3 linked regions of the Homo sapiens genome follow. The protein of the gene in region 2 interacts with the protein of the main gene of each other region in a pairwise test. Each region holds a gene or a part of one and is shown on either strand. Other genes may lie near its edges.

Evidence for each region. The genes of interacting proteins can lie anywhere in the genome.
Region 1: the proteins of HSD17B13 (region 2) and PNLIPRP1 interact in binary tests that used the Homo sapiens proteins (3 or more experiments, as listed by UniProt).
Region 3: the proteins of HSD17B13 (region 2) and APOA2 interact in binary tests that used the Homo sapiens proteins (3 or more experiments, as listed by UniProt).

What each region holds. Positions count from the first base shown.
Region 1 is NC_000010.11:116,600,959-116,608,274, forward strand, and holds part of PNLIPRP1 (inactive pancreatic lipase-related protein 1 precursor), read left to right. Parts: intron 1-113; coding exon 114-243; intron 244-3,071; coding exon 3,072-3,180; intron 3,181-4,183; exon of another isoform or gene 4,184-4,427; coding exon 4,428-4,595; exon of another isoform or gene 4,596-5,945; intron 5,946-7,316. UniProt on the Homo sapiens protein: May function as inhibitor of dietary triglyceride digestion. Lacks detectable lipase activity towards triglycerides, diglycerides, phosphatidylcholine, galactolipids or cholesterol esters (in vitro).
Region 2 is NC_000004.12:87,302,982-87,306,190, reverse strand, and holds the end of HSD17B13 (17-beta-hydroxysteroid dehydrogenase 13 isoform A precursor), read left to right. Parts: intron 1-882; coding exon 883-973; 3' UTR 974-2,397; downstream 2,398-3,209. UniProt on the Homo sapiens protein: Plays a pivotal role in hepatic lipid metabolism. In vitro, it catalyzes the oxidation of a variety of lipid substrates, including 17beta-estradiol, retinol, retinal, and leukotriene B4.
Region 3 is NC_000001.11:161,221,476-161,227,450, reverse strand, and holds APOA2 (apolipoprotein A-II preproprotein), read left to right. Parts: upstream 1-3,822; 5' UTR 3,823-3,856; intron 3,857-4,025; 5' UTR 4,026-4,049; coding exon 4,050-4,101; intron 4,102-4,400; coding exon 4,401-4,533; intron 4,534-4,928; coding exon 4,929-5,046; 3' UTR 5,047-5,159; downstream 5,160-5,975. Other genes in the region: TOMM40L (mitochondrial import receptor subunit TOM40B), read right to left, coding at 101-193, 496-563, 847-961. UniProt on the Homo sapiens protein: May stabilize HDL (high density lipoprotein) structure by its association with lipids, and affect the HDL metabolism.

The sequences.
Region 1 (7,316 bases), on a different chromosome or scaffold from region 2:
TGTCACAAAGGAGAACGCTTAGGCTGTAGGAAAATTGAGTGTCTGCCCTCTCAGATGTATCGATCATACAAACACAAATTCTCCTTACAGTCCCATCTATCTCTTCTCATTAGGACAAGTGCTTCCCGTGTCCAGATCAAGGATGCCCACAGATGGGTCACTATGCTGATAAATTTGCTGGCAGGACAAGTGAAGAGCAGCAGAAATTCTTCTTGAACACAGGAGAGGCTAGCAATTTCGCTCGTAAGTTGCACTTTGACTACCTGCCCATGTAAAGAAAGTATATAGTTTCTGTTACAAATGAGGGGCTTGCTTTCAACCTGAAATATTTGTGGGTACATTTTAATTATCTTAGAAATGGACACATTTACCGAAACTATTGCAGTTACAAGTAAACTGAGGATTTAGACAGAGTGTGCATTTCTTCCGTTCTATTTCTGCGGCATGAAATGAGAGCAAGCAACTAGTATAATTAATGGGATGAGGCCAGTTTGCACATCCTTGTGACCAGCTACCCTGAATTTTTACCACTCCACAGTTCATTGTTTCTTTCCTTTTTAAGGCCGCATCAGACACACCTGTTCTCTTCATTCAGCAAAGACGTAATTGGTACCAGCTCTTTGCTGGGCTATGTCCCTTAAGAAGCCCAACTCCATTCTCTGCTTTCCCCTCTGTCTGTGCATCCCTGATGCCCAGGGGCTGCCTCGCTGGTGGAGTGCAGGCAGGAATCAGGGGGAAGGATGATTTCTCTCCAAAACCTGCTGAATGGACTAAGACACAGGGTAGAGACTGGGCATGTTTGGGCCACTTTGTACCAACCTGCCCCATGACACTTCCATAGGAGGTGACCCAGTAAAGACAGAGGTTACATATTCATATAAATGTATAACACATCTTACATAGTTTTTAAAGTCAGATTTATTGAGGTATAATTTATATTTGGCAAAATGCACGCTGTTTAGCATACACTTGTATGAGTTTGGACAAATGAATAGTTGTGTAAACACCTCCAAATCAAGATACAGAACACTTCTATCACCATATATATCACTCTGTAATTTTTTTTTTTTTTTTTGAGACGGAGTCTCGCTGTGTCGCCCAGGCTGGAGTGCAGAGGCGCAATCTTGGCTCACTACAACCTCCCCCTCCCGGGTTCACGCCATTCTCCTGCCTCAGCCTCCCGAGTAGCTGGGACTACAGGCGCCCGCCACCATGCCAGGCTAATTTTTTTTTTACATTTTTAGTAGAGACGGGGTTTCACCATGTTAGCCAGGATGGTCTCGATCTCCTGACCTTGTGATCCGCCTGCCTCGGCCTCCCAAAGTGCCGGGATTACAGGCGTGAGCCACCGCACCCGGCCCACTCTGTGTATTTTTTTTGTAAGAAGACATTGATTAATCAATCCTTCCACTGATGTTGTGATGCATGAAATACTTGCCAATATTTCAACAACAAATTAAACACTCAAAAACCAGGTATTCATTCCTCAATCAACATTTATTTATGGGCCACAGACTATGCTAGACACTGAGGATGCAGGGACGAACAAGAGACTCCTCTCATGAAATTAATAATCCAGCCAAAGACAGAAACTGGGCAAGCAACTACAAGCGTGTTGGGCTTGGTGGCTGTTGCCATGACATTATGGGACAGAGAACCTGGCCCTGACCAGAAGGAGGGTCAGGGTCAAGGTCTCTGAAGACACGAAAGATGAATAGGAGTTAGGCAAGAATCATGTCTGTGTATATTAATGTACATCTGTGCACATGTGTGGGTGTATGAATGCATGTGTGAGTGTGTTTGTGTATGTACCTTTGTGTGTATGCATGTGTTTATATACGTATGTATATGAGTCTGTATGTTTATGTATATGTATGTGCATGTGTATGTATATTTGTATGTGGGTGTCTATGTATGTGCGTGGTTAAATGTGTGTAGGTTTGTGTGTGTGTGCACATACACATGCATGTTTGTGTAGATGTATGTGTGTGTGCACATGCACATGTTGTGTATATGTATTTGTGTATGTGCACGCACATGCATGTTTGTGTATATGTATTGTGTGTGCACATGCATATGTTTGTGTATATGTATTTGTGTGTGTGCACGCACATGCATATGTTTGTGTATATGTATTTGTATTTGTGTGCGTGTGCATGCAGGCCCTGGGACAGCATTTCAGGTAGAAGCCTAAGTGACAGCTGCTCGTGCACCTGCTCTGTGCTAGAGACTGCCCAGGGCCCTGGGGAGCAGAGAGGAAACACAGTCCCCGCCCTCGAGGTGCTTGCCAGGCTGCACTCCCGAGCTACCTTCCCAAATGTGGAGACAAGCCCCTATTCCCTCTCTCTTCACCTTACCTTACTGTACTGCCATTCTGGGGCAGAGCTGGCTAACAGAACTTTCTGCAATGAGGGGCATATTCTGTGTAGCCATTAGCCTCATGTGGCAACTTAACATTTGCAACACAGCGAATGAGTTTGAGAAACTAAATTTTTAATTGTATTTAATTTGGATTTAAATGTAAGCAGCCACATGTGGCTGGTGACCTCCTCCCTGGGCAATGCAGTTCTAGAGGGGGATACTGCTAAATACATACTTCTCCATAAGGCCTTGTTTGATTTGTAGATTAACAAATAGAATTTCTTATACTTTGGCTGGGTGTGGTGGCTCACGCCTGTATTCCCATCACTTTGGGAGGCGGACACGGGCGGATCACTTGAGGTCAGGAGTTGGAGACCAGCTTGACCAACATGGCGAAACTCTGTCTCTACTAAAAATACAAAAATTAGCCAGGCGTGATGGTGTGTGCCTGTAGTCCCAGCTACTAGGGAGGTTGAGGCAGAAGAATTACTTGAACCTGGGAGGCAGAGGTGGCAGTGAGCCAAGATTGCACCACTACACTCCAGCCTGGGTGACAGAGTGAGACCCCATCTCAAAAAATAATAATAATAATTTTTTAGAAAAGAATTTCTTATGCTTTGTTGCCTCAGAGTAAGAGAAGGAGACAAGTCTGGGATGTAGGCTACTTATTTTGTGTGTGAATAAATTGAACTCTTCCATCTCCTGTGCAGGCTGGAGATATGGGGTTTCCATCACACTGTCTGGAAGAACAGCCACTGGTCAGATCAAAGTTGCTTTGTTTGGAAATAAGGGAAACACTCACCAGTACAGTATCTTCAGGTAATTTCCTATTTTAACACTACGTCTCATTTGATGATATACACAGCCTTCAAACCACACACTTAATTTGAACACTTATCATCTCTTTATATGTCACTGGTTTTTAATTATAGTCATGCAACATGTAACAACATTTTAGTTGATGGACCACATACACAACAGTTGCTTTATAAGCTTGTAATACCATATTTTTACTGTACTTTTTCTATGTTTGGGTGTTTAGATACACAAATACTTACCATTGTGTTCCAGTTGTCTACAGAACTCAATACAGTAACATGTAGTACAGGTTTGTAACCTAGGAGCAATAGGCTGTACCATACAGCCTAGGTATGTAGTAGGCTGTGCCATCTACGTTTGTGTGAGTACATGCTATGATGTCCACACAATGATTAAATTACCTAAGGACACATTTCTCAGAACATATCTCCATTGTTAAGCAACGCAGGACTATATAACTTTATGTACTGATGTTAATTGCAGACTTCTGCTAATAATTTTTCTTTTCTGTTATAAACCTAGGCATTTCGTCCTTTCTCTCTCTTTTTTTTTTTTTTTTTTTTTTTTGAGAAAGAGTCTTTGCTCTGTCACCCAGGCTGGAGTGCAGTGGCACGATCTTGGCTCATTGCAACCTCCGCCTCCCGGGTTCAAGAAATTCTCGTGCCTCAGCCTCCCAAGTAGCTGAGATTACAGGCATGTGCCACCACACCTGGCTGATTTTTGTATTTTTAGTAGAGATGGGGGGCGTTTTGCCATGTTGGCCAGGCTGGTCTCGAACTTCTGACCTCAAGTGATCCACCCATCTCGGCCTCTCAAAGTGCTGGGATTACAGACGTGAGCCACCATGCCCGGCCTCTTTCTCTTAATAGATGTTTTTTTAAACATAAATCTAATATTACTTCAGATATGCTGTTTTCTGATTAGTGCAATAACACATGCTTATTGTGCCATACTATGTGGCCAATTTGTTACTGTACAAATAATTCTTCCAAAACATATAAAATGATATGCAGGAATTCTATTTTATTTTCTATTAGAAAGCTTTAAGGAAAAATTAACTTGAGTTTTAAAAACCATAGTTTGAGGTGCTAGCATATAGCTGGCTTTTCCATTTCTCCATCCTTTATTTGGAAATTAATTCGGAAAAATAATCCTGTTAATCTAGAAGAGAAAACAGCAGCCTGGCATTGTATGGTAATTAGAACTCATTTCCGTGAACAGGGATGTTTATGTTTCTCTATTTCAAGGGGGATTCTCAAACCAGGCTCAACCCATTCCTATGAGTTTGATGCAAAGCTGGATGTTGGAACAATTGAGAAAGTCAAGTTTCTTTGGAATAACAATGTGATAAATCCAACCCTCCCCAAAGTGGGTGCCACCAAGATCACTGTGCAAAAGGGAGAAGAGAAGACAGTGTATGTATCTTTGCTGGCTGGTGCCTAAAAATGTTTGCAGAGATTCATGTTATAATGAAAACCCACCCTAGAAAGTTACGTGTAGTTAAGCAAGAAAAGCCAAGAAAATTTACCCATCTGTGGCCCCTTCTCCCCAAACAAGCAACTGACAAACAGCATAAAATGTTTCTGTTGGGTGCACCTTATTGGGTGTTCTCAGCACTGCCTGTGGGAATACAGAAGATAAGGCTGCACTTTCAAGGTAAAATGAGAAAATACAAGAAAGAGAACAAGAAATCCTTTCTGAAGGGTACAAGTTTATAAGTATGGGCTAGTGAATAGCTATACTTGAAAGAGGAGAAGACCAATTACATTTCAGGATAATAAAACGGAAAATAAATCGGTTTTAGGAAAAGATCGAAAATTTTACATAGGACAAGAATGCACTAGGATTGCAATACTTGTGAGATCCTGACCTGTGGTCTCCCTGGCTTTGGGCCTGAATAAGCACAGGGCCGTGGGTAGGAAAAAGGGACGGCTGGAGGAAAGTTGGAGTGGTGACCTGAGAGGGCAGAGCGACTGTCTCTCAAACCTCAGACCCCAAGTCTGGCTAGTAGAACATGTGGCTTTGTGGGAAGGAGATCCTGGGCTCTCAGCCACCGATGTTCTTGAAGTTTGGGGTTAGGTGGAGTCACCGAGTTCAGGTCCCAGAGATTGTCACTCCCCCAGGTGGGGAGGGTGGGGTGGCAGAGTAGAATGGGGGCTGACTCCACATCTGGGTCTCCTCGAACTGGATGACTTAGTGAGGTTCTCCTTATCCCCACGAGGCAAGGAGAACAAAGAGGTTGGCCCTGCCAGGTGGTGGGTGGAACCAGGAGGCCTCATAAGCTAGAGCATAGTACAGAGGAGGCTGGGCCGGGCTGGTCGGGAGCCCTGTGCAAGCTGGAGGTGCAACCAAATCCTTTCCTCCCTGACCCCATCAGAGGATACTCAGCCTCTAAATTCAGCTCCCCAAGGCCCCATTAGCAAGCATCCCATGGCCTGGATCCTGGGACTGTGTGGTTAAAAACATGTCAGGTGGTGGCATCATTGGAATCTTAAAAATTAGAGGTGTTCCCAGGAGATGACTTGCTCACAGGTAAGGCATACAAGTCCAAATCAGCCAGGGCATTGCATCTTCCAGGTTTTCTGAGGAAAGGCTGAGGCTTTCTGAACTTTCTGCAAATGGAACAGAACATACTTAAGGCTGCACCTGAGGTCCTGTGCCCATCAGCTGTCACCTGCATTCCAGTGGCTGAGTGCAGCTCCCCTCGCTGTCTGCTCCAGAAAGACTCTTTCTTAAGAGCAGCTGGATATAAGACATCAGGTTTTCTAAACAGAGGAAAGTCAAAACAGCTTCAAATCTCTCAAACTAGTTTGGGAAGTAAAAACACTGAATTAGTTGAATTACTCAAACATTTTCCTGTTATGAAAATGGCCAGTAACATTTAATAATAATAATAATAATAATAATAATGAAGAAGCTAAAGAAAATCAAGATTTTGGTCCAAGCTCTTCTCAGAATCCCCTCATATTTTTTAGTAACCTCATTGGGGTTTCAATTCCTACTAAGGAATCTGCCGACTAGGATTCCCTCCAATGACACAGTATCCAAAGAGAAAGGCAGCCCTCCCCCTCTTTATTTCTCCGTCCCCCTCTCTTTATTAAGTACCTTTGGTAAATGTACCCTTGCAAATGACTTTATTCAGTACCTATTGTATGGCCTGGCAAACAGTAAGGGATGCAAACACTGAGCCTACACTCAAGGAGCTTACAGTTCAGCTGTTGAGAAAAATCAGACTTATGGTTCACAGGGAAGGTCAAAAGACCAAATAAAGAACTCCCAGGAGAGGCTCAGAAAGACAGTGGCCAAGGAGGAAAGCAGAGGGCCGCGGGGAGGCTGTGATGGAAGGAAGGGCAGCTCTCAGGATGAGGCAGGGAGTAGGAGGGAGGAAGGGCACAGGGGCAGGGCAACAGGTCCAAGTGCATGAGGGGCGACAGGGCCCAAGTGCAGGGAATATGATCGGAGGCCTCCGATGCCAAGTTAGGGCTTCTTGGCAGAAAAAATGAAACACAGAAGAGAAAGTGGGAAGGGGCCAAGGAACACCAGTGAGGAAATGGGGCAAAGCTTCCGAGCTCACAGGTGGTGAGGCCTGAGAGAAGTCCGTGGTTCTTGAACAACCACAAAAATAACTGCTTACATCTGCATTGTTTTTTGTTAATTGTAAGACTTTTTACATTTACCATCATGGGATGTTACGTTCTTATCATGGAATTCTCAACAGTCGTGGGAGAATGACTGAGATGGAATCTCGCTCTGTTGCCCAGGCTAGAGTACAGTGGCATGATCTCAGCTCCACTGCAACCTCCACCTCCTGGGTTCAAGAGATTCTTGTGCCTCAGCCTCCCAAGTAGCTGGGATTACAGGCATGCACCACCACGCCCGGCTAATTTTTGTATTTTTAGTAGAGACAGGGTCTCACCATGTTGGCCAGGCTGGTCTCAAACTCCCGGCCTCAAGTGATCCACCTGCCTCGACCTCCCAAAAGTGTGGGGATTACAGGCATGAGCCACCACACCAGGCCTTGCCTTGCTCTTTTGATACTGTGTCATTGGAGGGAATCCTAGTGGGCAGGTTGTTTAGTAGGAATTAATACCCCAATAAGGTTATTAAAAAATATGAGGGGATTCTGAGAAAAGCTT
Region 2 (3,209 bases):
TATTTGCATCCAATTTGAACTATGAATATTACAAAGGTGCACACATAGGTTCAGACAGATTGATTTAAAATGACCAAAGATGACCTGTCGTAAGCAACCTGGGTATCTTAAGATGCACTCCTTGGAGAGGGAATGTTCCTAAAAACATTTTCAGAGGGACGAACTGTATGAAATTCAGTAAAACATAAATCATGAGGAAAACTGATTACTCTCTTTTTGACATGAAATGAGAGTTTTAATGCATGGTTACGATTATTAACGTACTCCGCTGCAAGACGTTAATAAAGTTACTGTTTTGCAGGCTAGAATGTCTTGATGCTGTAATCAGAACACACTTTTTCCCCTTTCTTCCAGCTTCAAATGCAGATTCATAATTGGGCTGACTTCTAATAACTGCAATGTTTTCTGCCTTGGGCTTGCAGCAGAAGCCTGACAAAATAGTGTTTGTTTAGGCAATAATTTATTTATTTATTTATTGAGATGGAGTTTCATTCTTGTCGCCCAGGCTGGAGTGCAATGGCGTGATCTCGGCTCACTGCAACCTCTGTGTTCAGGCAATAATTTAGACTTTACCTTACTTGTGATTACTATAGCAATTACTATAGCCACAAGGCATAATTTTACTGTCTCATTTCAATTTTATGAATTTGAATGTTTTTACACTTTTCCTAATGAAGTCCACTATGAAGTTATGTCAAAAAAAAAAAAGAAAAAGAAAGATGCACACGTAAAAGAGAGGTGGTTGCAAGAGAAGAAAAGAACGGAGGAAAGTTAAACGCAAACCAGATAACTCTCAGCGTATTCTAAATGACCAAAAACAGAACTCTGTTGTCAAAGATTTTAAATGGAAAATTTTTCAATTTTTTTTTCTTTTTTGTACAGGTTTCTTCCTGAACGCGCCTCAGCGATTTTAAATCGTATGCAGAATATTCAATTTGAAGCAGTGGTTGGCCACAAAATCAAAATGAAATGAATAAATAAGCTCCAGCCAGAGATGTATGCATGATAATGATATGAATAGTTTCGAATCAATGCTGCAAAGCTTTATTTCACATTTTTTCAGTCCTGATAATATTAAAAACATTGGTTTGGCACTAGCAGCAGTCAAACGAACAAGATTAATTACCTGTCTTCCTGTTTCTCAAGAATATTTACGTAGTTTTTCATAGGTCTGTTTTTCCTTTCATGCCTCTTAAAAACTTCTGTGCTTACATAAACATACTTAAAAGGTTTTCTTTAAGATATTTTATTTTTCCATTTAAAGGTGGACAAAAGCTACCTCCCTAAAAGTAAATACAAAGAGAACTTATTTACACAGGGAAGGTTTAAGACTGTTCAAGTAGCATTCCAATCTGTAGCCATGCCACAGAATATCAACAAGAACACAGAATGAGTGCACAGCTAAGAGATCAAGTTTCAGCAGGCAGCTTTATCTCAACCTGGACATATTTTAAGATTCAGCATTTGAAAGATTTCCCTAGCCTCTTCCTTTTTCATTAGCCCAAAACGGTGCAACTCTATTCTGGACTTTATTACTTGATTCTGTCTTCTGTATAACTCTGAAGTCCACCAAAAGTGGACCCTCTATATTTCCTCCCTTTTTATAGTCTTATAAGATACATTATGAAAGGTGACCGACTCTATTTTAAATCTCAGAATTTTAAGTTCTAGCCCCATGATAACCTTTTTCTTTGTAATTTATGCTTTCATATATCCTTGGTCCCAGAGATGTTTAGACAATTTTAGGCTCAAAAATTAAAGCTAACACAGGAAAAGGAACTGTACTGGCTATTACATAAGAAACAATGGACCCAAGAGAAGAAAAGGAAGAAAGAAAGGTTTTTTGGTTTTTGTTTTGTTTTGTTTTGTTTTTTGTTTTTTTGAGATGGAGTCTCACTCTTTCGCCCAGGCTGGAGTGCAGTGGTATGATCTCAGCTCACTGCAAGCTCCACCTCCCGGGTTCACGCCATTCTCCTGCCTCAGCCTCCTGAGTAGCTGGGACTACAGGCGCCCGCCACCACACCCGGCTAATTTTTTGTATTTTTTGTAGAGACGGGGTTTCACCATGTTAGCCAAGATGGTCTCGATCTCCTGACCTCGTGATCCACCTGCCTCGGCCTCCCAAAGTGCTGGGATTACGGGTGTGAGCCACCGTGCCCAGCCTTTTTTTTTTTAATAGAAAAAATAATCCGACTCCCACTACATCAAGACTAATCTTGTTTTGTGTGTTTTTCACATGTATTATAGAATGCTTTTGCATGGACTATCCTCTTGTTTTTATTAAAAACAAATGATTTTTTTAAAAGTCACAAAAACAATTCACTAAAAATAAATATGTCATTGTGCTTTAAAAAAATAACCTCTTGTAGTTATAAAATAAAACGTTTGACTTCTAAACTCTGTCTCTATGAGTGTCCTTCAAGAACCAAGGATGTGGATGGTAACAGCTACATCTGGCAGTTATTAAATGAATCCAGGGGTTTTCTCAACTCTGGTTTCTTTGACAGCAGGAGTGCTGGTTTATCAACTGGAACTTACTGACCCCTTTCTATGTGTGAGATTAAGCACAGTGCTATTGTTTCTAATTTTTTTTCTTAGTCACCGGCAATAATTTTTTTCATAACATTCTTTTAATTTCTTGCCTTATAATCAAGAAATTTATGAGTAAAATGTATTATTTTTAAAGTATGGTTACAAAAATTCAAAAGAGAAACATGGAAAGTAAAAAATAGAAGCTTACCCCCAGCAATCCCATTTCCCAGAGGTCACACTGTCAATGCACAATCTTCCAGTCTTTTACTGATGCATGTTCATGACAAATACATTATATTCTTATTGCATGGGTCGTATCAGTAGTTTCATACCATACATTATGTTCTGTAACTTGCTCTTTTAGCTTACCAACTTATCACAAACAGCTGTTTGTTTCAGTATAGAGAATTCAACTTTTTTTCATGAGTACACAGTACTAAAATGGTACTCTAACCATTCCCTTTTGATAGGCACTTAGGATGTTTCCAGTATTTCTTAGTTCATCTATTTAAATATTAATTTAACAAATACTGAGTGCCCTCAAAGTTCTAGGCCCAGGGAAACATATATGAATAAGGCAAACTCCTTGTCTTAACAGAGCTCACATTCTAGTAGGTGGGACAAACAATAAAGGGACTGCAAATATGAGAGAGAGCATTTAAAGTAGTAGAGTCAGG
Region 3 (5,975 bases), on a different chromosome or scaffold from region 2:
ACGGCCCATTCCTCCCCATAACACACACAATTCCTCTTCCTCCAGACCTGGGTCCCAGATTGGTTTTTAGGGAGATGACCCAGGTGTGTGGAGCCCTCACCTCAGTGGGACTGAGCTGCCAATCCCCTGCATAGGCCGCATGGAGGTGATATCCCGGCAAGCCCAGGGCACTCATGTGTATAGTGTGCGCCACCTGAGGAAAAGAGGATTCAGTGGAGAAAAGCGCATTCCTGCTCCACTTCAATCCCTCATCCCACCCTTAGTCTTTTCCCCATCCAGAGGGCCTCTCAAGAATCCTAAATATTCCAACATATACAGAGAAGGTCATCGGATTAAAAGCAACAAGTCCCACAGGCACGGAGGTAAAGAGAACCCCACATCCTCCCTCATTTGTCCCACATAGACTGGCTAGGGCTGGAGTACAAAGGAAAGGAGAAGATGATCCAGGGACAGGAAAGGGGGAATAGTAAGGAGGGGCCAGAGAAGTGGGAGCACCTGGAAATGGCTGCTCAGAACCTTGTTGACAACGAGCTTCACTCCCTCCATCTGTGCTGGGAATACATCTGAAGGGGGTAGGGGAAGGGAAGGAATAAGCACAGACAAAGAACCCCTACCCCAAAAGATAGTCTCCCCTTTCAATCCCATAGGGAACACTTTGGAGGAATTAACCTCCTTTCAAGTCCTGCAATGAAATGCTCCACTTCATTTGGGCACCTGATCCTCCCTGAGGCTGCATGACCCAGCTATGATCTCCCCTTTCCTGCTCCCATCGCCGGACATCCGGCATTCAAGACCCTCCACTCCTCTGCCCCTTCATCCTGAGACACCCAAGTGCCAAGTTCTCACCTTTGCATAGACGGTGCAGCTCATCGAAGCTCCCAGGGTTGGGCAGGGGTTCCTCTCGGCGGGGGCTCCGGCGGGGCAAAGTCCCCATTGGTGCCAGGCCCAATGTGTTCCCCATTTTAGTCCAGAGGACTGGGAAGAGCCGAGGTTAGCCTGTGAAAGGACGCTATTGCCCCTTTACCCCCCAACGGGCCCCACCCCCCATTATCCGGCTCCCCAGCCTCAGAAACTTCCACATGGTCCGACGCTACACCTGGAACAGGAAGAGTAGGGAAGGAGAGCACTCATGGAGAGACAACCCTAGGCACACTCCCGCCCCATCTTTGATCTCTCACCCCCACTTGTCACCCTTGTCCTCTCTCCCTTTCTCTGATCCTAGCCCCCACCACAGACTTCACCTAGCTCCCTAGCCTCTCTATTCTTCATTCCCAGGCCCCAAGACCAGGCCCGCAATGGTGCAGTATCCCTTACCATCTCAGACCATCATGCTGCCCCTTTCCCCCCGGCACACCCCGGTCATCTTGATGGGGGCAGCCATCTTGAGTGATGGCAGAACTGCAGCTTCACGCTGCATTCTTAGCGTGGCCGTAAGCGCCATCTTTGAATCTGGCAAAGAAAGCTGTCAAAGACCCAACCCAACCCTGATTGGGCCCCGCCCAATCAATGAAAAAAAAAAAAAAAAAAAAAAGCCTCGCTATTTACCATGGGCCAATGGGAAGGGAGGAAGAAAATGAGTGGCAGGTCTGACGGCCCAAGAGCTTCAACCCTGGAGCTGCAGAGGCGGGCAGGACTTGATTGGTGGCCCCTTAGACTTAAGTGGAAGGCTTTAGATCACTAGGCCTCTCCAAGGTCGGAAAAAAACTTGTGAGCGTACAAGACACTAGAGGGAGCATCTTGTAGCTTGGGCCACTGAAGCTCCTTCCACCCATGTAGTTTCATCCATGAGAAAAGTGGAACTACAGCTTGTAGACTGGCATAGTGTGAAGGGTGGCAGAAAGAACGATTATGAAGACTTCTTTGGAACCCTGGTTCATTTCTATCGCTCCCTTCTCTCCAAAGAACCCATGGGAAATCCTCCTCACAGCCCTCCACAGCACACCTCCAAATGAGTACTACTCATTAAGCGCAGCACTCCCTAGAACAGGGACCCACCCTTCTCTTCTGGAGGTCTACATCTCTCGAAGTCCCCGCTCTTGACCACTTGGTGGAATGGAAACGGGTGTGAGAGTTTGGCGCAGAGGAGTAAGTTCTAGCAGAACTATTCGCTGAAACAGCTGCTTTCTGTATTTAACCCTTCCTTCCCTGAGTCCCAAGGCAGAGTTGGCAAATAAAATCTAGGAATATGGAGCCTGGCCCCCAAAGGCACTCCATCCCAGGACCAGGGACAAGCCAAAGGGCTGACCTCAAGCACTAAGCGCTCCACAGGGGAATAATTGAAAATGGAGTAAGAGTTCTTGGTCTTGGAGGGTGAAGGGTGGGAGGAGGGAGAAGATCAGGAAAAATAACTAATGGATATTAGGCTTAATACCTGGGTGATGAAATAATCTGTACAACAAATCCCCATGACACAAGTTTACGTGTGTAACAAACTTGCATATATAGGCCAGGGGCGGTGGCTGATGCCTGTAATCCTAGCACTTTGGGAGGCCGAGGCGGGCAGATCACCTGAGGTCGGGAGTTCAAGACCAGCCTGACCAACATGGGGAAACCCCGTCTCTACTAAAAGTACAAAATTACCCGGGCGTGGTGGCGCATGTCTGTAATCCCAGCTACTTGGGATGCTGAGGCAGGAGAATCCTTGAACCCGGGAGGTGGAGGTTGCAGTGAGCCGAGATCATGCCATTACGCTCCAGCCTGAGCAACAAGAGCAAAACTCCGTCTCAGGAAAACAAACAAAAAAACCTGCACATATACTTCTGAATTTAAAACAAAAGTTAAAAAACAAAGATTTCTTGGTCTCTGGTCACTACCTCCCTCATCAGCTTTGCGCCTCCACTGTCACCCTCAGGAATGTTCCACATACTCAGCGAGTATGCTTGGGGGGCAAAAGGGTGAAAGATACAAAAGCTTCTGATATCTATTTAACTGATTTCACCCAAATGCTTTGAACCTGGGAATGTACCTCTCCCCCTCCCCCACCCCCAACAGGAGTGAGACAAGGGCCAGGGCTATTGCCCCTGCTGACTCAATATTGGCTAATCACTGCCTAGAACTGATAAGGTGATCAAATGACCAGGTGCCTTCAACCTTTACCCTGGTAGAAGCCTCTTATTCACCTCTTTTCCTGCCAGAGCCCTCCATTGGGAGGGGACGGGCGGAAGCTGTTTTCTGAATTTGTTTTACTGGGGGTAGGGTATGTTCAGTGATCAGCATCCAGGTCATTCTGGGCTCTCCTGTTTTCTCCCCGTCTCATTACACATTAACTCAAAAACGGACAAGATCATTTACACTTGCCCTCTTACCCGACCCTCATTCCCCTAACCCCCATAGCCCTCAACCCTGTCCCTGATTTCAATTCCTTTCTCCTTTCTTCTGCTCCCCAATATCTCTCTGCCAAGTTGCAGTAAAGTGGGATAAGGTTGAGAGATGAGATCTACCCATAATGGAATAAAGACACCATGAGCTTTCCATGGTATGATGGGTTGATGGTATTCCATGGGTTGATATGTCAGAGCTTTCCAGAGAAATAACTTGGAATCCTGCTTCCTGTTGCACTCAAGTCCAAGGACCTCAGATCTCAAAAGAATGAACCTCAAATATACCTGAAGTGTACCCCCTTAGCCTCCACTAAGAGCTGTACCCCCTGCCTCTCACCCCATCACCATGAGTCTTCCATGTGCTTGTCCTCTCCTCCCCCATTTCTCCAACTTGTTTATCCTCACATAATCCCTGCCCCACTGGGCCCATCCATAGTCCCTGTCACCTGACAGGGGGTGGGTAAACAGACAGGTATATAGCCCCTTCCTCTCCAGCCAGGGCAGGCACAGACACCAAGGACAGAGACGCTGGCTAGGTAAGATAAGGAGGCAAGATGTGTGAGCAGCATCCAAAGAGGCCTGGGCTTCAGTTGTGGAGAGGGAGAGAGCCAGGTTGGAATGGGCAGCAGGTAGGGAGATCCCTGGGGAGGAGCTGAAGCCCATTTGGCTTCAGTGTCCCCCAAACCCCCACCACCCTCTTCCTAGGCCGCCCTCCCCACTGTTACCAACATGAAGCTGCTCGCAGCAACTGTGCTACTCCTCACCATCTGCAGCCTTGAAGGTGGGTGTGATATGGAGAGGGGGCCAAAAGGGAGAATGTGCTGGTGGTTATAGCTACCTATCTGCCTGTGCTCTTATATCCAGGTCTGGCAACCAAAGGGCTCAAAAGGAAGATCATTCCCTCTCTAAAGCCCAGAAAGCCCATCCAAAGATCTGGCTGGATACCTTTTTGGGGAGGGGGCAGAGAGCTGGGGTGGGTACTGGCAGAGGTATGGCAGGAGGCCAGGATTCACTGCTGTGGACCCAGCTGAAAAGAGTGTGTGTGTGTGTGTGTGTGTGTGTGTGTGTGTGTGTGGGCAGGAGCTTTGGTTCGGAGACAGGCAAAGGAGCCATGTGTGGAGAGCCTGGTTTCTCAGTACTTCCAGACCGTGACTGACTATGGCAAGGACCTGATGGAGAAGGTCAAGAGCCCAGAGCTTCAGGCCGAGGCCAAGTAAGTCTCAGGGCAAGGGGTTCAGGGGCTGTGGAACTGTGGAGAGAAAGAAGGGAAGATGAGAGGTCCCACAGAAGTCTGAACCCAGGGGTGGGGATTAGGGCAGATTAGGCTTAAATTGCAGAGAAAAAGTATTTCATCACCCAAAGATCCCACACGTCTCTTAGATAGAGAGGAACAGCAAGAACTGGGCCTTGAATTTCAGTCTCTAGAGTCTGTCCCTCTACCTAGCAAAGGTCTTGACTCTATTCCTACCTAGGGGCTTTGCCATGCGATGGACCAGGCACTAGAGTTTGGGGACCTGAGTCAGTCTGCTCTGACCTCCCACCACCACCAAGGCCCCTGCCAGTGCCTAGGGTCCCTCAGATTAAACTCTAATCCCCTCACCTATCCAGGTCTTACTTTGAAAAGTCAAAGGAGCAGCTGACACCCCTGATCAAGAAGGCTGGAACGGAACTGGTTAACTTCTTGAGCTATTTCGTGGAACTTGGAACACAGCCTGCCACCCAGTGAAGTGTCCAGACCATTGTCTTCCAACCCCAGCTGGCCTCTAGAACACCCACTGGCCAGTCCTAGAGCTCCTGTCCCTACCCACTCTTTGCTACAATAAATGCTGAATGAATCCAGCTCTGAGCCTGGTATGTTTGGGGGACTGGGAAAAGTAGGGGAGTAAGGGAGGAGAAGAGGAAGGAAAAGGAAAAATCTGCTTCTAGAAGGAGAGAGGTTTGAGTGTGGAGGGGTGAAGAAAGGATTGAAGACACAACTGATGAAAATGACAGGATGAGGGTGCCATGATTCTCCAAACCCAGAGTCTCCTACAGCCTGGGCACGACTCTGCAGGTGAACACTAAAGAGGCTTTGCATTGCACAAGGAACTAGGAGAGGAAGGAAGGATTCACAAACTGAATCCCTCGATTTCTGGAGGTCATAGAAAATGAGGGTACCCTGGTGGGGTGCAGTGGCTCACACCTGTAATCCCTGCACTTTGGGAGGCCAAGGTAGGTGGATCACTTGAGATCAGGAGTTCCAGACCAGCCTAGCCAACATGGTAAAACCCCGTCTCTACTAAAAATACAAAAATTAGCCAGGTGTTGTGGCACGTGCCTGTAATCCCAGCTACTCGGGAGACTGAGGCATGAGAATCTTTTGAACCGGGGAGGCGGAGGTTGCAGTGAGCTGACATCGTGCCACTGCACTCCAGCCTAGGTGACAGAGCAAGACTCCGTCTCAAAAAAAAAAAAAAAAAAAAAAAAAAAAGAAAGTAAAGAAAAAAAGAAAATGAGGGTACCCCTCATAATTTCCTGTTAGTCATTCTATGAAGAAAAGAAAGCTTCCCAAGGTGTCACCCGTGGCCCTCCTTTCCCTTCTGAGCCAGGGGAACACTGTGTTTCCCCCTTTCCCACAATAAAAGACTTGAGTTTGCTCCTCTCCCTAGAAGTGCT